3 linked regions of the Homo sapiens genome follow. The protein of the gene in region 1 purifies or fractionates together with the protein of each later gene. This does not show direct contact. Each region holds a gene or a part of one and is shown in the gene's direction. Other genes may lie near its edges.

Region 1 (7,445 bases):
CAATGAGTATATTTCCAGATGAGGTTACATTTTGAGGTACTGGGGGTTGGGACTTCAACACTGGAATTTAAGAGGACACCATTCAACCCATAACAACCCGTAAACTTGTCCCCCAGTTAGATGCTTTCGTCTTTCAGCCTCCTTTCTTTGTTCTTGGTCCTACCAGTTTGGAATCAAGACCATGTTGGAGACAGAAGAAGGAATCCTACTGCTGGTCAGAGCCATGGATCCTGCTGTTCCCAACATGATGATTGATGCAGCTAAGCTGCTTTCTGCTCTTTGTATTCTACCGCAGCCAGAGGACATGTATGTGACTGGAATAATTTTTCTTCTCCATTTTCAATTTTATCATTTTCTCTTAGTTCAGAGGACAATTGAGTTGGTTGGGTGTCCTCTCGGTCATAAATACTAGGTAAGATTGTGTTTCTTCCCAGAAGTGAACACTAAGCATCTTAAAATTTAAGAACAATTCCTAAGTGATGGGTGCTATCCTGAATGTTCCACTGGTCATCAGAGGTATAGCAAAATGTCTCCTATATCTCCATTAATATCTGTATTGTCTAGGATGAGGGTTTCTTTTTACTATTCTTTTTTTTTTTAATTCAGAAGTGGCACAATGTTATTTTTAAAACTCAAACGATATAGAAGTATATAAAGTAAAATTTAACTGCCTCATCCCTTTGCCAAATCCTATTCTGCAAAGAGAATGACTGTTAATGGCATGGTATAGTCTCATAGAACGTTTCCTAAGCATAGACAAACATATTGCGTTCCCTTGATTCTAGACATCTGCCACCGCAAAAGATAGTATCTTAAGAGCTGAGGAATGACACTTATGCCTATAAAACTAACTGCATATATAGGATAGATTTTTATTATTGAAGAGGGATTTGGTTTAACCAAAGCTAAATCATTCTTTTCAACCTGTTTCTTTTTAATAGTAGATCTTGGACATTTCTTCTATGTCGGTACTTACAGATCTACCTTATTATCTTTAGTAGCTATTTAGTATTCCATATACATGTATGTATGGCCTATAATTTATTTAACAATTCCCCTGTTGCTGGACTTACAGATTTTTTTTTTTTCCTTTTTTTTTTTTGAGACGGAGGCTCGCTCTGTTCCCCAGGCTGGAGTGCAGTGGCGCGATCTCGGCCCACTGCAAACTCCTCCTCCCAGGTTCAAGCGATTCTCCTTCCTCAGCCTCCCGAGTAGCTGGGACTACAGGAGTCCGCCACCACGCCTGGCTAATTTTTGTATTTTTAGTAGAGATGGGGTTTCTCCCTATTGGCCAGGCTGGTCTCGAACTCCTGACCTTGTGATCCGCCCGCCTCGGCCTCCCAAAGTGCTAGGATTACAAGCGTGAGCCACTGCGCCCAGCCAACTTACAGATATTTTTTAAAGCAGATTTCACTATCTGTTCTAGGTGATCATTTTTACAAATGATACTGCAGTGAACATCCTTGTGCATATCTTCTTTCACATTTATGCCCATATGTTGGATACATTTCTAGAAGTAGACTATATGTTACATGCATGAGAAATTGATTAGTACTGTTAAATGCCCCTCCAAAAGTTGTATCAATTTATACTTCATTGAATAGGGGACTTGATTTGGTATTTATGGACAGGAGCCTAGGGATGGATTGTAGGGAATGCATTTCCCTGAAGAGATGGTCCTTAGCTTTCAGCAGTTTCTGGAAACTGAGTGGTGAGAATAATAATGTGAGAAATCCGGAACACTGATAATGTCCTGTTTCCTAATCGGTCTGTGCCCCTGTGTAATTTACTCATTATACGTGTCCGTGTCACAGTACCTGGAAAGTTCTCTCCGTTTCCTTTCTCTTGGGCAGGAATGAAAGGGTTTTGGAGGCAATGACAGAAAGAGCTGAGATGGATGAAGTGGAACGTTTCCAGCCGCTGCTGGATGGATTAAAAAGTGGAACCACTATTGCACTGAAGGCATGTATATCCCCTGAAACTGGGCCCAAGAATAGAATTCAAGATGGACAGACTTAAATTCATTTGACCTTTTAATAAAATACATGGAGTGCCTCCCAACTATATATTTTACATTTCAGAATCTGTTATGAAGGGAAAATGATTAACCTTCTTTCTAAGAAGGTAAAGAATGAACTGTTTTCCTCATTATGAGATGGAAAAAGGCATGATATCTATTTACAATCTAGGAAAACCAAGACCTACAATAACATATACTCTCAAATCCTTGAAACCATTTAGAGTTTAGGCTCTCCGGATCTGTACTCAAACCAGGTCTCATTGCTATAGTAGAAAAGTCATCTTTAGAGTTTTTGTATTGTATCTTTCAGGTTGTATTGGGGACCTAAGAATGCATGTAAAGAAAATGGATTCTTGATCTCCAGGAGTTAGCATTGACATAGCTGCTGAATTTTCTTATTTTAGGTTGGATGCCTACAGCTGATCAATGCTCTCATCACACCAGCGGAGGAACTTGACTTCCGAGTTCACATCAGAAGTGAACTGATGCGTTTGGGGCTACATCAGGTGTTGCAGGTAAGATATTACACTTCATTAGAAAGGCTAGACTGGTTCCTTCTTGCTCTACAGCCCCAATAATCCCGGGGATAATTCTGGTTTTCAATTAAAAACCAGGTTGAAAAGCTTAGGTTTCTAACCACAGAGGATACTTTTGGGTTCCCTGACTTCTACTTTTGTTGTTGACAGGACCTTCGAGAGATTGAAAATGAAGATATGAGAGTGCAACTAAATGTGTTTGATGAACAAGGGGAAGAGGATTCCTATGACCTGAAGGGACGGCTGGATGACATTCGCATGGAGATGGAATATCCTTTTGCTGACTAGGTTCAAGGCAGATGAGACATTCATTGTATTTAGTTCCCTGATCCCTGTGTGGAATGGTTTGGGAGATGATGACTCAGAACAGAGCATCAGGCTTATGTGTCTTCTCATTAAATAAGGCAGGTGTATTTTTATTGCGCTGGCTTTACTTAGCTTATCATAGATCAGGGAAGTCAGTAAAGGTGATCTGAGGGTTGTTGAGCATGGAAGCCATCAAAATCAGTGTAAACTTCCTAGAATGTGATAGCTTAGCTTACTAAGATGTAGAACTGGCTTTTAGAGATGTTTGGACTGACAGAGGGAGTAATTTAGTTACCTGTTAATATTTTCAGTAAGTGACTTTGAGGCAGTTACCTCTTATTTTCTGTCTACTGCCTGATCTTCAAGCCAAGTACTTACTAGGAATCCTCTGTGTGTATAGTACCACCCAATTCACTGGTCCCTTAAAGGACGTTTTAGAAAGCTTAAAGTTTCTGGTGATGTTTACAGGAAGAACAGCCAGTAGAATGGAAGTGGTGTCTTGCTACTTTTCCCTAGCTTTTTCAAGAGTTAAATAAGCCACCTGTCAAACATAATTTCTGCATATTTGCTTTCCTTAGCCTATTTCCCTTTTCCACTGACTTTAATGAAGTCTTTCAGATTCTCTTAAACACAGTGAAGGATTCAAAGGCAGAGCCACACTTCCTTTCCATCCTGCAGCACTTACTCTTGGTCCGAAATGACTATGAGGCCAGGTAAGATGCTGTGCTTATGAGAAGTTTTGAATTTGAGCCTAAGTGGAGAGAGTGAATTCCTTAAATTCAAAGATTGTTCTGTAAAAGGAAAATGTAAAGACAAAGACCCAAGATTAGGGTTCATTAGTCACCGATATAAAGGAAGTTGTCTTATTTCTTTAATCCAACTCAAAGGCATCCCTATGGCAGAGGTCAGAGTGTATAAGGTGAAATGCCGTTCTGTTTTTGGAGGGGAGTAGGTAAATAGGATGAAGATGTTAGCAAACAGAAGTGGCAATTTAAAATTCTTTCTAGTTTCCTGGAAGTATAGATTTAGCAATAGCACTATCCATCACAGGAAGGATCAAACGCAAATTTTTAGATGGGAAAGTATTGGCACTAGGAGCGGATGGCAAGAAGTTTTGATTATTTGAAGTAGATAGGGTAGGGTAGCTGATGTGGAAAAAGGAGTTTTCTTAGCATGGCAGCAATACTTGTGTTAACTTTACAAAAGTTTTTCCAGGTCTCTCAGTTGTCAGAGCAATTACGTTTTCTTGGTCCTGAATACTTCTGAAAATTATATTTTGATTTTCCTTTGATGACCCTGTTTTTATTCTCTTGTAGACCTCAGTACTATAAGTTGATTGAAGAATGTATTTCCCAGATAGTTCTGCACAAGAACGGGGCTGATCCTGACTTCAAGTGCCGGCACCTCCAGATTGAGATTGAGGGATTAATTGGTAAGCATACTCTTCTATCTGGCTCCTCCAAGTATTGCTTCTTCCTTTCATTTTGCATCTTGTTTCAGTGAAAATGTCAGAGAAGATACCTTTCCAGTCCCCAGATAGTTCTATTTTTGTCCTTTCTTAGGTCATAACCAGCATCTTTGCTAGGAATCTATAGGTCTTTAGTTTATTTTTAGATAAAACACACACCAGCACCTTTTGCAGGAACTCCTGGTGGTCTCAGAGAGTCAAAAATATCACTCATAGGCATTCTTCTTGCCACCCAGCATGGTGGCCTTACCGCACACTCAGATTACATGTTGAACTTAACTGAAAGTTCCATTTCTTTGTCTAGTGCAGAACATTAAGAAAGATAATAAAAATGATCAAAAAGACTGTTCTTTGGAAGGGTGTAGTGTGAAAGAAATAGAACAAGAGAATTAGGAGCTTTACTTACTGACTCTTCTTCTTTTCAGATCAAATGATTGATAAGACAAAGGTGGAGAAATCTGAAGCCAAAGCTGCAGAGCTGGAAAAGAAGGTGCATATGAGAGACCAAAGACATGTGTTTGAGTATATCTTTCTTTGAGAATTATTATTTTCCTGATCTATGAGACAGTTTTCCTCTGTGGTATTTTGGAAGCGTTTAGCACCCAATAGTGTAGTTCCCAGGGGAAACCTTTCCAGTATAGGGTAGTCATTGGAGAAAGTGATATGGATGTCTTCATAGGGAGCTCTAGTGGTGGACTTTCAGTTCTTGGGCTACTGGGCAGGAAAAGAAAGACAGATGATACTCATGTAATAGTAATGGCACTCTCAGGTTTGCTTGGCATTTTAGGCCTCTTACCCCTAGAACAATAGGAACTGGGGTCCTTAGAGCAATAGAACTAGAGGATGTCTGAGTTCTCTTTTTCTCTTCAGTTTTTAAGAACGTTTATTGTGGTTAATAGGTTTTTGATCCTAGAGAATATTGGGATTGTACTACCATGGTCGTCCTCGTTAAATACCTTTAAAATCTTATTTTTTTTAACTATAAAAATAGGGAATCTGTGGAAATGAACTGATTCCCCTCTCCTTTAACCTTGTTTTATTTTCATTTTTATTTTTATTTGTTTTTTTTTTGAGACGGAGTCTCACTCTGTCATCCAGGCTGGAGTGCAGTGGCGCGATCTCGGCTCACTGCAACCTCTGTCTCCTGGGTTCAAGCAGTTCTCCTGCCTCAGCCTCCCAAGTAGCTGGGATTACAGGTGCCCACCACCATGCCCGGCTAATTTTTGTATTTTTGGTAGAGGCTAGGGTTCACCATGTTGGACAGGTTGGTCTCGAACTTCTGACCTCAGGTGATCCACCTGCCTCGGCCTCCCGAAGTGCTGGGATTACAGGTGTGAGCCACTCCGCCCAGCCAAACCTTGATTTTAAGGTCAGAATCATGGTGCTTTTTTCCCCCGAGCATGGCCTGGATTTATGAGCTCTGTAAATCAAGTACTGGCCCAGAACAGGAGGCAGTGGGGGGATTCCAGCACCCCCAGGCAAAAGAGGAGGTAGGGAGAATTATGGGTAATAATACTTGTGCTTCTTACTGAGATGGAGAGCTTGCTGGGAGCCTGATTCGTTTTTTCTCTAGTTGGACTCAGAGTTAACAGCCCGACATGAGCTACAGGTGGAAATGAAAAAGATGGAAAGTGACTTTGAGCAGAAGCTTCAAGATCTTCAGGGAGAAAAAGATGCACTGCATTCTGAAAAGCAGCAAATTGCCACAGAGAAACAGGACCTGGAAGCAGAGGTGTCCCAGCTCACAGGAGAGGTAATGCCTGAGCAGGGAAGGCAGAATGACCTGTAACCTCAGGATGCACATGGCTTGGAACAGGAGTCAGTCATCTCGCTCCTAGGGAGGGTTCAGCTACTAATAGGTAATCTAGTTACATGGTGCATATTTTAAAAATAATATACTGGTTTTTGGTTTGTGTTGGGGGTAAGTAATACATAAGACAGAAAATCTGGAAAATACAGAAAAACATTAAGAATAAAGTAAGTTTCATTACCACCCAGAAATAAAAGTAATAAGTCTCCTAATAAATTAGGAATAAAAACTAAACTGTTAAAAATTGACTAATTTCCTGTTATTTTAGTCACCTCTGCACAGATTTATCCTTACACACTCTCTCTGCAGTAGTAAATACTTAAATGATCTTTGATGTCTGATAACTTGATTACTTATGTGGTTATATAATCATCTGTGTAGCACATATATTAGTTATATAACTAGAACATTTAATTTACTTGACCTTTACATTTTCTAATCAAGGGAGGGTTTAACATAAAGGTTGAAATTGTCTTCTTAATACAAAGCATGCTGAACTAAGAACATGAAAACCTGAATTCTAGTTTTGGCTCTGCTGCCAAGCCGTGTGACTTTAGGTGATCATGTCATCTCTCTGACTCCTCTCAGTTCCTCCATTTGTAACATGAGAAGTTTGGATTAAGTAGTTTATTAGGTTCCTTCCAGTCCCAGTAGTCCCTGAAGTGGGGTGAGAAGTACTCACATTGATGTTATTTCTGTAGGTTGCCAAGCTGACAAAGGAACTGGAAGATGCCAAGAAAGAAATGGCTTCCCTCTCTGCGGCAGCTATTACTGTACCTCCTTCTGTTCCTAGTCGTGCTCCTGTTCCCCCTGCCCCTCCTTTACCTGGTGACTCTGGCACTATTATTCCACCACCACCTGCTCCTGGGGATAGTACCACTCCTCCTCCTCCTCCTCCTCCTCCTCCTCCTCCACCTCCTTTGCCTGGGGGTGTTTGCATCTCCTCACCCCCTTCTTTACCTGGAGGTACTGCTATCTCTCCACCCCCTCCTTTGTCTGGGGATGCTACCATCCCTCCACCCCCTCCTTTGCCTGAGGGTGTTGGCATCCCTTCACCCTCTTCTTTGCCTGGAGGTACTGCCATCCCCCCACCTCCTCCTTTGCCTGGGAGTGCTAGAATCCCCCCACCACCACCTCCTTTGCCTGGGAGTGCTGGAATTCCCCCCCCACCTCCTCCCTTGCCTGGAGAAGCAGGAATGCCACCTCCTCCTCCCCCTCTTCCTGGTGGTCCTGGAATCCCTCCACCTCCTCCATTTCCCGGAGGCCCTGGCATTCCTCCACCTCCACCCGGAATGGGTATGCCTC
Region 2 (7,445 bases), on another chromosome or scaffold:
TGTGGGGTCTTTTTCTGAGGTTCACGTTCTGGAGAAAGAAAATGACCAAAGCCCGGAGGCAGGCTTACTTGTGCTGACACAAGCCCCTCCTGTGCCTTTGACAGCTGTGGGTCTCGGAGGGTTACAGATGGAGCAGTCAGATCTCGTGGCATCTCTGAGTTAGTAACTTGAAATATGGTGTTATGAGCAAGGCCAGAAAGGGGCTGCTGTTTTTAAAAGATTTTAAAGAAGGGTATCTTCTGGATAACCAAAAGACATTCTTGTCCCATTTTCAGAATCTTCTGGGTAATTTAAGTGTTGCTATGTTTGCATTTAGTTCCTCTTGTTCAGGAAAAGCAACTAAATAAAACTTCTCTTAGCTGGCAACCCCAGCTTCCGGTCAGCATAGCCAAGAACAGGGAAGTGAGCAAAAGGGCCTCTGAGAAACAACAGGCTTGAGCCAAGCACCACTGAGCATTCTGTGCGAGGCCCAGGGGAAGGTGAGGAAGCAGCCGCTGGCCCTTAGGGATCTTGGCTGTGACAGGGTGAGGATGCATGAGAAGACACGGAGACAGCTGATTCTGCCCACGTGGCCGGCAGGGCTCCAGAGTGGAGTCGGGCTTTGGAGATGCTCAGAGTGGCCATGGCTGGTTAGAGAATCCTGGGCCTCGTGGCAGGGAGAAGGGTTAGAAGATTAGCTGAGCTGAAGCTTTTGGCAAGAATGGTTTTCCAGAGGGGAAGAGAGAGGGCGCGGTGAGGAAGGCTGGGAGGCCCTGCAGGCGTGTTCAGAGCTGCTGGAGACACCGGAAGAGCCCAAAGGCAGAGCAGCTGGGCATCCTTGTTAGATACGGCAGATAGGTGCTGGAGGGTGGCTGGCTTGGCACAGGGCAGGGTTCAGCCCAGACCGCGGTTTAGGTGAGCAGTGTCCTGGCCACGTCGCAGCAAGGAAGGAGCCGAGCCAGCCAGGGCTTCACACACAGCCCTGGGCTTCTGTAGAACCGCCCCCGCCTCTGCTCAACCTTTTTGCTGCTTTTTGCGGGGGTTTCCAGTCGCCTGCTTATCAGATTTCCCGGCCTGCAGCAAAGCAGGAGGGACTGTTGCTCCTGGAAGTAGGCACAGGGCCTCTGAGGAGTGATTTCAGAAGAAGCCACAGAAGATGGTGGCGGGGGTTGACCTTGGAAAGAAGGGGCTGGGGCCTTGTGGGAAATGTCTCTGACCCCACAGCAGCCCTGGGCCAACAATGGGTTAAATTAGGCCTGATAAGTTGGATTTAAGAAAGCAGGATTTTTAAAAAAGGCAGGAACTATGTGAACCGTGTTAAGGAAGTTTTCCTTAAAGTGGTTCAAGTTGGGATTGATTTTTGTGCTCAGTGGGGAGCTAGTTTGGGGGAGGGCTGGCCCCCAGAGATGCCAGATGGATGAGGTGTGACTGCCTCTGCTAATGGACCGTGAACGGTACCGGAACTTTTAACAGGGGCCCGAAAATTGGAAGTGGTGAAAAGCCAAATTTTGGGTGTTAACCGTTTATCATTTCCTGGTTTCAGCCACATTGTAAATCACCTTGTGAGGGCAAAATGCAAAGAGGTGACCCTGCACAAGGACGGGCCCCTGGGGGAGACAGTCCTGGAGTGCTACAACTGCGGCTGTCGCAACGTCTTCCTCCTCGGCTTCATCCCGGCCAAAGCTGACTCAGTGGTGGTGCTGCTGTGCAGGTGAGTGGTCCCCAGATGTCTCCTGGGGGTGACCTTTAAGCTCCAGCCGTCTCCTCACAAGCCTTGGCCCAGCCCAGCCCAGCCGTGGCTCTAACTCCAGGGAGTTGTCCTCCAAAGATGGTTTTTGCTGAAGGGTGAGGCATGAGAGCGTTTAGGCGCTGAGGCTTGTTAAGGAGTCGGCAGTGCCGTGTAACTCTTTTGGGGCGTTCTGGCTAAGTCATAAAAACAATTCTGTAAAAACAAAGTCTGTTCTGAGTTTTAAGAGTTCAGAGCTCAAGTGCACAGGGAGATGCGATTTATTACTAACAGTTTGAAGGTAATGTGATCACATAATAAAATGCAGGGCATGCCCCTTTGGGTGAAAGGTCAGCATGGGAGGGGGCCCTCCCTGCTCCGGGGCTTCAGGGACGGGAGCTGGTCCTCACGGCCCCCTCCCGCTCTGCAGGCAGCCCTGTGCCAGCCAGAGCAGCCTCAAGGACATCAACTGGGACAGCTCGCAGTGGCAGCCGCTGATCCAGGACCGCTGCTTCCTGTCCTGGCTGGTCAAGATCCCCTCCGAGCAGGAGCAGCTGCGGGCACGCCAGATCACGGCACAGCAGATCAACAAGCTGGAGGAGCTGTGGAAGGTGGGGCTGCCCAGCGGGCCGACCCGTGCCTTCGTGTGGTTTCTGGTTGCGGGGAGGGGAGTGTCTTCAGAGACGGCTTGACCCAGTGAGACCGCTGGAGATTCTCTGAAAGGAATTCAGGCAGACCTCTGCCACCTCTACGTGGAATGACCTCAGGGCACCTTGGTCACCTTCCATCCAGGCAGCCTTACCTGACCGAGAAGATCCTGGCCTTGGGGAAAGGAAAGCTCTGGCTGCTGGAATTTTTCTTGTCTTGCCGGGGTGAGGATGGGTGGTGGGAGGGGAAGAATGGGGCTGGCTGTGGGCAGACTTGTCCTGCAGAGCCTGAACCTGCCCAGACAGGTGGGCTGCGAGAATGTCCTGGGGAAATAGGTTGGTGTCGAGGTCGGCACAGTCAGCTGAGACAGAGGGGAGAGGAGAGGGTGCCGGGTCAAGTAGTGGGTGCCTGGCCCTCCTTCCACAGACAGCCCTCACTTTTCCCCACGGAAGCCTTTCTGTGCTTCCAGCTGTTTAGGATTTTGTGATAAAGTAGTTCTAATAACTAGGCTAGAAGTTTTCATTTGCCTCCCATTCAGTCAGAAATCTCACATAGGAAATGAAGTGCAAGTTAAAATATTTTTTTAAGCATTGTTCAGCCGGGTACCTTTCCACTTGGATTTTCCGGTTGCCAGATGATTTCATGATTCCCGTTTATATCTGAACAGCCCAGAAAATGTCCTGTCCCCACCAGCATGGCACTCACTGAGGGAGCTGGCCCCCAGGGGAAGAGCTGCGGGCCCATGTTGGTCTGGCTCAGGGTTAGCAGACGTGGGAGACAGGCCTCCCGGGCTGTGGACACAGCGAGAGAAACCGGTGGTCTTTGTGGCAGCCTGCGAGGCGGGTTAGCTGCTCTCGTTCACAAGCTGGGCATACTTGGAGGAAGCAGCTGGCTCTGAAGGTGCCCTCTGCTGTGGACAGTGTGTCAGGCTGGTGCCTGGGGCTTTGTAGGCAGGTTCACCCAAGTACCGGAACCCCGCTGGGGTGCGGAGCAGCAGCTGAGGCCCAGGCATGGGCCAGGCCGGTGTGCAGCTCCCTGTGTGGCATGGAGTTCCCGTTCCCAGGGTTCTCCTTGCAGGTGGGGCTGCGCCAGAACCCCTCCATGCCACCCACCGTGGCCCATTCTGAGAAGCGGCATGTGTGCTCCATCCCTCTGGTGCCTCTGCGCCCTCGTTCATTTGCATGTAGGGAAAAACAGGACGAGTGTGGCGCGGTGTTGTTGTCTTCTAGGAAAACCCTTCTGCCACGCTGGAGGACCTGGAGAAGCCGGGGGTGGACGAGGAGCCGCAGCATGTCCTCCTGCGGTACGAGGACGCCTACCAGTACCAGAACATATTCGGGCCCCTGGTCAAGCTGGAGGCCGACTACGACAAGAAGCTGAAGGAGTCCCAGGTGATGTGTGCGAGAGGGCTTGGCCTGGGGTGGGCTCTGGCTCTCACAGCTCTCTCCTCAGGCTTCCAGAGGGAGGTTTTCTCTCCAGGCTGTGGGAGCTGATGTGGGCTGCAGCCGCGACACCTGAGAGTTGGAACTTGCGGATCCGGGCCTGGCAGCCCGGTGGTCTGAGCCCCCGCCCTCAGATCTGACATCAGCCTCAGTGTTTTCTGTTTAAATCCAACACATCTTTCCCAGTGGGGTCCACAGCTTTGCCCACAGTTGCGAGAGTTAGACTCGGGCGTGATCCCTGTGAAGACCACATTTAGGCAACGGGAGCCCTGGAGCGCTGACCTCCCCTCCCTCCCTCCCCTCCTCTTTCTGTCCCTCCCTCCCCTCCTCTTTCTGTCCCTCCCTCCCCTCCTCTCTCTCTTCCTCCCTCCCACAGCAGCTGCTCCCTGGCCACGGAGGCCTCTGGTGTGCGGTGAAGCCTCCAGACGGGATTGGCCTGTGTGTGTTCCGGGGACTCCTAATGGCTTCTCTTTCAGATGTGCCCTTGGTGGCATTTGGGGCTGCAGGTGCCACTCACGGCGCCTGCTCTCACGGCAGAGGCTTGCTGTAGGGCCCGCCTCATGGGGCCTCGGGCATGTGGAGGCCAGGCCCGGGCCTGTGCTGGAGGCTAACCGGGGCTCTTGTTTTTCATGTGCTCAGACTCAAGATAACATCACTGTCAGGTGGGACCTGGGCCTTAACAAGAAGAGAATCGCCTACTTCACTTTGCCCAAGACTGACTCTGGTAATGAGGATTTAGTCATAATTTGGTTAAGAGGTGATTTTAAGTTTTAAAATATTTGTGACCATAAGTAGCATAAATTCCTAGTTCCACCCTTGTAAAGTGCCCCTTAATTTGAACTCTCCCTGGTGGAAGCGACGGCGTGGGTTAAAATGGCCACCTCTCTCACTTTTTTACCTCAAGACATGCGGCTCATGCAGGGGGATGAGATATGCCTGCGGTACAAAGGGGACCTTGCGCCCCTGTGGAAAGGGATCGGCCACGTCATCAAGGTCCCTGATAGTATCCTTCATGTGAAGAGGGTGTGGCCGGCTGGTGGGAGAGGAAAGTGGGGGCATCAGGTGGAGGCCACTGTGGATTTGATGCTCACTGCTGGGCCAGCATCTCATGCTCTGTGGTGGGTGCTGGTTGGCATCGCCCTCCACTGCTCTTAGGAGAATCACAGGGCCTTCACCTTCAGGGGACAGCTGGTTGTATGGTTGCTTCCCCTCTGCCCGAATGGTGATGTTGGTGATGCCACTTGTGTGGCGCGTCCCTGGGCTGACTCTGGAAGTTAATGTATGCCGCTTGTGTGGCACGTCCCTGGACTGACTCTGGAGGTTAATGTGGCTGCAGGAGCGCCTTACCTGGACGCTGACTCTGCACACGGAGGTTCCAGAAGCCAGTGGTCACATGCAGACCCTCTGAGCACACACTTGCTCCCAGGCCATGTTTGGGAATGTGCAGTGACCTCATGGTGATGCAGCCTGCCGGCCAGAGTGGGGCAGCTGTAAGGCACAGGTGCAGTCAGAGGCTTGGGTGGGGAGGAGTCCTGGGAGAAGACACCGCGGGTCAGACTCAGGCTGCCTCTTGGTGACTGGCCAATGCTGCTGGGGCCTGACCATTCAGCGGTGGCCTCCACAGGGGTAGGGAGAGTTGTCTCCCACACCCACCCTGGGCCTGACAAGCTCATCCTGAACACGTGAGACCGGTTTTGGGGCTCGGGGTCGAGGGAAGGGTGTTGCCTACCGGCCACAGCCTCCTGGAGGGCAGTTTGCTTGTGTATGTGGAGCCTTTTGCTTGGCCGTACTGGGAGGGGTGTTGTTTCTGTGGAACTGTGAGAAGAGCTGCTGTGGCCAAAGCTGGGTTCTGCGAGCTCTGCCTGCCCCTGCTGGCCACATGTGCAGGAGCTCCCGGTGAGGTCCTGGGGCCCAGGATGTGGCTGCTCCCTGCTGGTGAGCGCTGCTGGCTTCGCTGCCGCCCTCTGCGTCTCTGAAAGGGGCCTAGATGGGTGGCTGGGAGTGGCAAGGAGGAACTCCAGGCTGGCTGGGGGTGGGACACCGGCTCATGGTGAGGTAGAGTCTTTCTTCAAGGATGCTGTCCTTCTGGTCTCTGGTCTGGTGTTGGCTGCACGTTTTTAGCGTTTGGTGCAGAGCCAGCGGTGTCTTAAGTAACTAAATTTTAAAAACGCTGTTTAAAGAGCGTGTACCAAGGGTGGCCCAGAAAGGTCAGCCCGGCTTTTGACAAGGATGCAAACTTAACTCAGCACACAGATTATGGCGATGAGATCGCCATTGAGCTGCGGAGCAGCGTGGGTGCACCTGTGGAGGTGACTCACAACTTCCAGGTGGATTTTGTGTGGAAGTCGACCTCCTTTGACAGGTACGTCTTCTCCCATCACTGCCCCCTGTTCCCTGGTTGCCACCTGTGGCATCTTTATGAGCCCTCCCCGTCACTGTGGAGTGGGGTTCCCCACCCAGCTCTGCAAACTCAGGATGTCGGAGAGGCGGCCACAGCTGTGCGTGTCGCCAACCCCAAACCCTCCTCACAGGATGCAGAGCGCATTGAAAACGTTTGCCGTGGATGAGACCTCGGTGTCTGGCTACATCTACCACAAGCTGTTGGGCCACGAGGTGGAGGACGTAATCATCAAGTGCCAGCTGCCCAAGCGCTTCACGGCGCAGGGCCTCCCCGACCTCAACCACTCCCAGGTGCGCGCCGTCCTCAGCGCGCGGGGCCTCGCCCATGGGCCGGGACGCAAGCGGAGGCTGCCCCTAACGGCCGCTTGTATTGAAGGTTTATGCCGTGAAGACTGTGCTGCAAAGACCACTGAGCCTGATCCAGGGCCCGCCAGGCACGGGGAAGACGGTGACGTCGGCCACCATCGTCTACCACCTGGCCCGGCAAGGCAACGGGTAGGGCTGACACGGCCCTTGCGGGCAAGACCCGGGAGGGCTTTAGGGTGGCCAGATGGAAGGCCTGGTGCTGGGAGCCTTGGGCTCTGTCACACCGAAGAGAGCACGTGGCGGGTAGTGTCGCCATGGTGCCTACCGCTCTCTATGTGACATTATTCGTGTCAGCTCCAACCTTAGGATTGCATTTTAGTAACCAGGTCTGCTACTGGTTTAGAAAACTGGGGGCAGGGGGGGCATGGCTGCAGCAGCGTGAGTTCCGTGTGCGGCACTTTATAGTGTGGCGGGATGGTGCAAGTTCCAGCCTTGGCATTGCTTGCGGTGGGTAGAGCTGTGAAGCCTGGGCTGTCTGGATCTGAGCTCCTTCGGCATCGTGTCATTACTGCCTGTTAAAAATGTCAGGAGTTTAAGGCCAGCCTGAACAGGGTGAGACGTCTCTACAAAAAAAAAATTCAGAAATTAGCTGGGGGTAGTGGCGTGCACCTGTGGTCCCAGCTACTCAGGAGGCTGAGGTGGGAGGATTGCTTGAGCCCAGGATGTTGAGGCTGCAATTAGCTGAGATCACACCACTGCACTCCAGCCTGGGCAACAGAGCAAGACCCTGTCTCAAAAAACAGAGTCTTGGCTTACTACGTTCACCGAGCTTCCTCTGGGTAAGCACTGAGCTGCCCCAATGGTGTTGCAGGCCGGTGCTGGTGTGTGCTCCGAGCAACATCGCCGTGGACCAGCTAACGGAGAAGATCCACCAGACGGGGCTA
Region 3 (7,846 bases), on another chromosome or scaffold:
TCACTGCCGAGATCGCGCCACTGCACTCTAGCCTGGGTGACAGAGCAAGACTCCGCCTCAAAAAAAAAAAAAAAAAAAGATCAAGAAAGAATTAAGAATCACAACTTCAAGACAGAAAGTAAAACAAATGAGAAGCCTCTTAGATACGAAAATTATCCTCACTGAAGAAAAACTGAGAAGGAATGAGAAAAAAAGTTCAGAAGCATTGTAGCTAAAACAGGAAATGACAAATGCGGACAGGAATTGCAAAGATTTGGTCACCACTTAAAAGGTAAGGATAACTGAAGAAGTGGAAAATTATGGCTGTGTTTCTCGGGAGATGAAAAGGCAGTCAGTGGACTGTACTCAACACTATTTCAAGATCCACTATCTCAGTCAACAATAACTAATTATACAGCCAGGATCTCCTGAATCATAAAATGATGCAATTCCTAATAAGGAGCATGGTGGAGATAATGGCAGGGACAATATGACACAGAGCAGATCTCACAATCACTAGCTGTGATTCCTTAAGCGAGACACTAAACTTCCCTGAGGTGTTTTTTTTTTTTTAGACAGAGTCTCACTCTGTCGCCAGGCTGGAGTGCAGTGGCGCGATCTCAGCTTACTGCAACCTCCACCTCTCAGGTTCAAGTGATCCTCCTGCCTCAGCCTCCCAAGTAGTTGGGACTACAGGCGCATGCCACCAAGCCCAGCTAATTTCCTGTATTTTTAGCAGAGATGGGGTTTTACGGTGTTGGCCAGGATGGTCTCAATCTCTTGACCTCATGATCCATCCATCTGGGCCTCCCAAAGTGCTGGGATTACAGGTGTGAGCCACTGCGCCCAGCCACTTCCCTGAATTTTAATATCCTCTTCTATTAAAAAAAAGGTCTGGGCCGGGCATGGTGGCTCACGCCTGTAATCCCAACACTTCGGGAGACTGAGACGGGTGGATCACCTGAGGTTGGGAGTTCAAGACCAGCTTGACCAACATGGAGAAACCCTGTGTCTACTAAAAATACAAAAAATTAGCCGGGCGTGGTGGCACATGCCTGTAATCCCAACTACTCAGGAGGCTGGGGTAGGAGAATCGCTTGAACCAGGGAGGTGGAGGCTGCGGTGAGCTGAGATCATGCTATTGAACTCCAGCCTGGGTGACAAAGCGACATTCCGTCTTCAAAAAAAAAGAGAGAAATGAAGAGAAATACTATGTACATGAGTTAGAAGACTCAACATAGTAAAGCTATCAATTCTCCCTAAATCGATATAAACATTTAATGTAATTCCTCTCGAATCCCAGCAAAATTATTTGTAAATATAGATAAGACGATTCTAAAACTTACACAGAGAGGCACAGAACTAGAATAGCTAAAAATCTGGGGGAGAGAAGAATAAAGTGGGAGAAATCAGTCTACCTTATTTCAGACTTACACAGCTACAGGAATCAAGACTGCGTGCTAACGGAGAACCCAGAAACAGACTGAAACAGACCCACACAAATATGCTCAACTGACTTTTGACAAAAGTGCATCAACAACTCAATAATGGAAAGGGAGCCTATTCAACAAATGGTGCTGGAGCAACTGGACATCCATAGGCCAAAAAATGGCCCTCAACTTAAGTCTGACACCTAACAGAAAAATTAACTCAAAATGGGTCATAACATAAATGTAAAACATAAACTATAAAACTTTTAGGAAAAAAATAAGAGAAAATCTTTGGGATCTAAGGTTAGGCAAAGAGTTCTTAAACTTGACACCAAAAGCACAATCCATAAAAGGAAATAATGATAAATTTCAACAAAACTGAAAACTTTTGCTTTGCAAAAGACCCTGTTAGAAGATGAAAAGATAAACTACAGACTGAAAGAGAACATTTTCAAATCACATATCTGAGAAAGGACTGGAATCTAGTATACCTAAAAAACTTTAAACCCAACAGAAAAAAAAAATCTAACTAGAAAATAGGCAACATGTTGGGAGGCTGAGACGGGAGGATCGCTTGAGCCCAGGAGTTTGAGACCAGCCTGGGCAACATGGTCACACCCCTGCCTCTACAAAAAATACAAAAATTTAGCCGGCTGTGGTGGTGCACACCTATAGTCCTAGCTACTTGGGGTGGCTGAGGCAGGAGGATCGCTTGAGCCCAGGAGATTGAGGCTGAGGTTGAAGTGAGCCATCTTGGCACCACTGCACTCTAGCCTGGGTGACAATACGAGAAATCCAAGTTAAAATCACCATGAGGTGTCACTATATACCTATAAGAATGGCTAAATTAAAAATAAGGACACCACCAAATGCTGGTAAGGATGTGCAGAAACTGGACCTCTCATACTTTCCTGGTAGGGATGCAAAATAATACAGCCATTCTGAGAAAGTCTGGCAGTTTCTTACAAAACTAAGCATGCAACTACCATATGACCCAACAATTGTATTCCTGGGCATCTATCCCAAAGAACTGAAGACTTATGCTTACATTATGAGTTACTGTACATGAATGTTTATAGCAGCTTTATTGCCAATAGCCAACAACTGAAAACAACCTAGATATCCTTCAAACTGTGGCACAATCATACCATGGAATACTACCCCAGCAAACTGCAGATATATGCAACAACCTGGATGAATCTCCAGAACTTTGCTGAGTTGAAAAAAAAAAAATCCAATCTCAAAAGGTTACTAACTGGGTGATTCCATTATATAAGTCTTGGAATGACAAAATTATAAGAATAAAAACGAATCACTGATTGTCTGGGGTTAAGAAGGAGGCAGGGCAGGAAAGAAGTGTGTGTGGTTATAAAAAGGCATTAAGGGATCCTCCTGGTCCTGGGAACATCCTTTATCTTCACTGTATCAATCAATGACAATATGCTGGTTGTGATATCGTACTATGGGTTTGCCAGATCTTATTGTGGAAAGGTGGATAAAGGGTACAGGGTTCTCACTATACTGTATTATTTCTTACAACTGCATATTAATCTACAATTAACGCAAAATACAGTTTAATTCGAAAATAAGTAAAGTTAGCCTCAAAGCAAATTAAGTACAATTAAAAATAAATCTAACATCAGCTAAATGAAGTGTTCTCTTCTGCTCAAGCTTGTTTGGATACGTAATCTATGAATCAAAGAATTTATAAAACACATTTTCCTCACCAGGACCCCTCAATTTTCCCTCACTCACACATGCACACAAACACAGCAACTGAGACAAGGGGGTCCAGACAGAAAATTTGAGATTTTTAAAAAATACGCGATAGAATGAAAAGAGACCTGGGCTGAATCAGGGAGAAAAATCTTTGTCCAGGTTCTATAAAACAAACCAACGGTGTCACTTTGGACGGATCCTCTAATCTCTCAGCCTGCAATCTGAACTGTTTCTACAATTTAAACTTCTCATGTAGGAGGTTGCTTAGTAGAGTGGTTCTCAAACTTTTTGGTCTCCAGCCTCCAAAGAGCTTTTGTTTACACAGATGAAAACCACCAATGTTTACTATCAAAAATTAAAAGGGAGAATTTGTTTTTAAGAATACACAGGCATCGGGCCTCCAAACGGCGGTGAGATCACTCCATACCATGTAGCCTTTGGAAAACTCGATGTACACGACCTTGGTACTATTAACGAAAATAGTTGTAACCACACTTGGAAAACCGCTGGCTTACTAACAAGCGAGATAAATCTACAAAAGTAACTGGAAAGGTTCAAAACAGTGAACAAACGCGTTCTTTTAGAGTACAAAAGAGTCAAGGCGGGAAAAAAACGGTTTAAAATCCCAATGGAGGAAAACTTGGACGACCACACCATCGGATAAAACGGGAGAGCTTTTGAAAAGCCAGGGGAGCCGGGCTTTCTCCCGGCGGCAGGGAGGCTCGGAAGTGCTCACGGCTGCAAAAGATGACCGCTATTCAATCAGTCCGCACTGCGCCTTCAACTCCGTTATAGCCGTAAGAGACCCACAAACACCGCTGTGGATGTAACTTTTGGCAAAGACCGGGAAGTCGTTCAAGAACTCTCCCACCGTCCCGACGCTGGCGCCGCGCCCCGCGAACCGGGGTCCGGCCGCGCCCAGGCTCCGCAGAGGCTCCTCTCCCGCCCCAGGCGCCCGGCCGCCGCGGAAGCCGGGGAGCACTGGGCGGGCGGGGCCGGAGGGGGCGCGGGTCACAATCCCGGGCCGGACCAGGGGGCCGGTGGGTCGAGGGCGGGAAGTCCCGCGGGGGCCGGGGAGCGCGGGGCTGGGGCCCCGGCGTCGGCGGGACTCACCAGGTGCCGCGCCACCTCGGAGGAGGCCATGGTCGCGGGCAGGGGCACGGTGAAGCGGCTGTATCAGCCCGGCCCCGAGCGGCTGGTCCCGGCGACGGCGGCGGGAAGGCCGGAGGGCAGAAGCAACGGGCGGGGCGCGAGGCTAGGCTGCCTCCGCGACGGGGAAGGGACAGGGGCGGGGCCGAGCTGGAGGCCTCCGGGGGCGGGGTTGGGGCGGACGCCCTGTGGTGCGCGCTGAGCGTTTTGCCTGCGCCAAGCGAGCCCCTCACAGGAGCTACCCTCGACGCCTGAGGACTGAGCGTCAGCGTTGGGGCGGGCTGAAGGAGAGCTGGGACTCCAGGAAGACGGCGCGAGGAATGCAGGCGGGAACTGCGGAGCAGTGATTGCGGCCCTCGCGAGGCCGGAAGTGGGCGGGCCTTGAGGCGAGGCCGCCCTAGGTAGGTGTGGCCGAGACAGCGGGGAGCGGAAGTGGGCGTGGCCTGGTGGCGTGGGCGCGGGGCGGGGGTGCGGGGGGCGTGTCCGCCCGGGCGCGGCCCAGTGAGGCGGTGGCCGAGTCCTCTGGCCTCAGACGCGTAGGCTGGCAGCCCGCTGAGCCCGCCAGACTCCGCCGCCGTCGGGAGCCGGCCGCTGGGAGCCCGTCGCTATGGGACCGCGCTGAGCCGCCCGCTGGCGGGGGAGCAGCGCGGTCGAGGATGGAGGGGCCGGCAGAGTGGGGCCCCGAGGCGGCGCTGGGCCCCGAGGCGGTGCTGCGCTTCCTGGCGGAGCGCGGGGGCCGGGCCCTGCACGCCGAGCTGGTGCAGCACTTCAGGGGCGCCCTAGGCGGCGAACCGGAGCAGCGCGCCCGCGCCCGCGCGCACTTCAAGGAGCTGGTGAACGCCGTGGCCACTGTGCGCGTCGATCCCGCCGACGGCGCCAAGTACGTGCACCTCAAGAAGAGGTTCTGTGAAGGGCCGTCCGAGCCCTCCGGGGACCCGCCGCGAATCCAGGTGACCGCCGAGCCCGAGGCCCCCGACGGCCCTGCCGGGCCCGAGGCGCGCGATCGGCTCCCCGACGCGGCGGCCCCGGAGTCGCTCCCTGGACAGGGCCGCGAGCTGGGCGAGGGAGAGCCCCCCGCCCCCGCGCACTGGCCGCCCCTGAGCGCCGGGGCTCGCAGGAAGAACTCGCGGCGCGACGTGCAGCCCCTACCGCGGACTCCAGCCCCGGGGCCCAGCGAGGACCTGGAGCTCCCGCCACATGGCTGCGAGGAGGCGGACAGGGGCAGCTCCCTTGTGGGGGCTACCGCACAGAGGCCGGCCCGCCAGAACCTCCGTGACCTGGTGATGGGCAGCTCCCCGCAGCTGAAGAGGAGCGTGTGTCCCGGGGGCAGCAGCCCGGGCAGCTCCTCCGGGGGAGGACGCGGCAGAGGCGGGGGCGACTCAGACAGCGCATCGGTGGCCTCGTCGTCCGCGGAGGAGGAGAGCAGCGGCGGAGGCTCCGTGACGCTGGACCCCCTGGAGCACGCGTGGATGCTCTCTGCCTCCGATGGCAAGTGGGACAGCCTGGAGGGCTTGCTCACCTGCGAGCCCGGCCTGCTGGTCAAGCGGGACTTCATTACCGGCTTCACTTGCCTGCACTGGGCCGCCAAGCACGGCAGGCAGGAGCTTCTGGCCATGCTAGTCAACTTCGCCAACAAACACCAGCTGCCGGTGAACATCGACGCCAGGACGAGCGGGGGTTACACCGCCCTGCACTTGGCAGCCATGCACGGCCACGTGGAGGTGGTGAAGCTGCTGGTGGGGGCCTACGACGCCGATGTGGACATCAGGGACTACAGTGGGAAAAAGGCCTCCCAGTACCTGAGTCGGAGCATCGCCGAGGAGATCAAGAACCTGGTGGGAGCCCTGGACGAGGGTGACGGGGAAAGCGCCGCGGGTAGCGGCGGCGGGCGCTGGAGGCTTTCAAAGGTGCTTCCCTCGCATCTCATCACCTACAAACTCTCACACGCCCTAGAAGATGGAGGGGACCATCACCACCATCACCACTCGGCTGAGGGGTGGGTCGGAGGCAAAGCCAAGGATCCAGGGCGCAAAGCCTCGGGCAGCTCTAGTGGACGTATAAAACCCAGACTCAACAAAATCCGATTCAGAACCCAGATCGTCCACACCACACCCTCTTTCAGGGACCCAGAGCAGCCGCTGGAGGGCAGGGGGGAGGAGGGAGTGGGGGAGGAACGACCTGTTAAAGGCCACTCGCCCTTCACATTGAGACCAAAGTCCAATGTATTTGGGTAAAAATTGCTTCTTTTAGAAAATGCAAAGGTTTATTTGTCTTAATAAATTGAATACTAGGTGTTGTAAGGAAGTGAGACCAGAAGGACAAGCTAAATTATGCATTCTTACTTGAGGGATCGGAATGGATGGGGCGGAGTTCTCTTCAGGCTAGCCTTCTGGGAAAAGTGGATGTCTTTTTCAGAGATTCATCATACCTTGACCTGTACCTCTTCTCTGCCCTCCACTTCCCTGCCCTGGAGTCCGTTTCTGGAGACTAGAAATGTATCTAAATTGGGGGAACAGAATGAATGAATTAATGAATGAGAGTTCCTTTGCTTTAACCATTCCTGGATGCCTGCAAAGTAAGGAATAATGCAGTTTTTATGTATCTGATTTTATAAGGGGTTACTCTTTCAAGAGTAACAAAAAAATGCAAACTGTAATGAAACTACATTGTATTTCTAAGTGTGAAAACGACAGGCTGCCCCGTTTTTACTAATTGCATTTGCATTTTAAGGTACTACTGAAGGTCAGATCAAAGTTGAAATGCAAAAATACTAATTAGAGAATAATGTGAATAAAATGGGAATCTTCTTGGTATTTTATGTGTATTGTAAGTAGCAGTTAAATTATTTTTTTAAAAGCAATTTCAGTTTTAATCACTGAACAAAAGAAACAGGCAACATTCACTTCTGTAGTATGGTTTCCACCTATCTCTAACACCACTATTAAGGTACACCAGTGTTAAGGTACATTAATAACTACACAAAATTTTATTTAAAGAGAACACTTAGCAGCCTATGATAGTTTTCAATAAAATGTTGCCTCTCTTTCGGATTCTCACTAACTTTTGTTACTATTCTAAAAGTTTGAATTTGCTGGGGTGTTTATTCTGAGGATTATTTAACCATTGTTCTATTTGGCATAACCCTATTTAATGGTGCTTAGAGCTGAATTACCTACAGAAACTGTTTCTGGTTTAAATAATTAGCACAAATTGGCCTAAGTATTCATGAGCCCATGTTTCTGTGAAGTAATTATTAAACCAACTTAATGATTCTTATGTAAGGTACACTTTTTATTTTAATACATTGGTAGTCTCTATGACTTGTAGCAATGTTTTACAAATGTTTAAAATGCTAAACTTAATTTTCCAAGCTTTTCTTGACAATTAGATACCTATCCTGTAGTTACTGAAAATCTGGGTAGTAAATCTACCCAATTAAAATGGCACTTTATAAAAGGGAATAGAGAAGAGATGGGACTATTTCTATATTTAAATGCTGCTGGCTATTCCTTTGTATATAAATGAAAAATACCATTCATTAAAATTAAGTACTCGTTTAAGTATGGTTC

Evidence for each region. The genes of interacting proteins can lie anywhere in the genome.
Region 2: the proteins of DIAPH1 (region 1) and UPF1 fractionate together in Homo sapiens (co-fractionation; 2 studies listed by BioGRID). This does not show direct contact.
Region 3: the proteins of DIAPH1 (region 1) and SOWAHC purify together in Homo sapiens (affinity purification with mass spectrometry; 2 studies listed by BioGRID and IntAct, with this or other methods). This does not show direct contact.

What each region holds. Positions count from the first base shown.
Region 1 is NC_000005.10:141,573,605-141,581,049, reverse strand, and holds part of DIAPH1 (protein diaphanous homolog 1), read left to right. Parts: intron 1-166; coding exon 167-306; intron 307-1,853; coding exon 1,854-1,962; intron 1,963-2,424; coding exon 2,425-2,535; intron 2,536-2,706; coding exon 2,707-2,825; intron 2,826-3,458; coding exon 3,459-3,575; intron 3,576-4,178; coding exon 4,179-4,294; intron 4,295-4,755; coding exon 4,756-4,820; intron 4,821-5,903; coding exon 5,904-6,083; intron 6,084-6,841; coding exon 6,842-7,445. UniProt on the Homo sapiens protein: Actin nucleation and elongation factor required for the assembly of F-actin structures, such as actin cables and stress fibers. Binds to the barbed end of the actin filament and slows down actin polymerization and depolymerization.
Region 2 is NC_000019.10:18,848,553-18,855,997, forward strand, and holds part of UPF1 (regulator of nonsense transcripts 1), read left to right. Parts: intron 1-1,522; coding exon 1,523-1,690; intron 1,691-2,135; coding exon 2,136-2,316; intron 2,317-3,582; coding exon 3,583-3,744; intron 3,745-4,434; coding exon 4,435-4,519; coding exon of another isoform or gene 4,520-4,552; intron 4,553-4,699; coding exon 4,700-4,798; intron 4,799-6,024; coding exon of another isoform or gene 6,025-6,048; coding exon 6,049-6,157; intron 6,158-6,326; coding exon 6,327-6,486; intron 6,487-6,571; coding exon 6,572-6,690; intron 6,691-7,372; coding exon 7,373-7,445. UniProt on the Homo sapiens protein: RNA-dependent helicase required for nonsense-mediated decay (NMD) of aberrant mRNAs containing premature stop codons and modulates the expression level of normal mRNAs.
Region 3 is NC_000002.12:109,609,557-109,617,402, forward strand, and holds the start of SOWAHC (ankyrin repeat domain-containing protein SOWAHC), read left to right. Parts: upstream 1-4,807; 5' UTR 4,808-4,933; coding exon 4,934-6,511; 3' UTR 6,512-7,846. Other genes in the region: SEPTIN10 (septin-10), read right to left, coding at 4,242-4,271.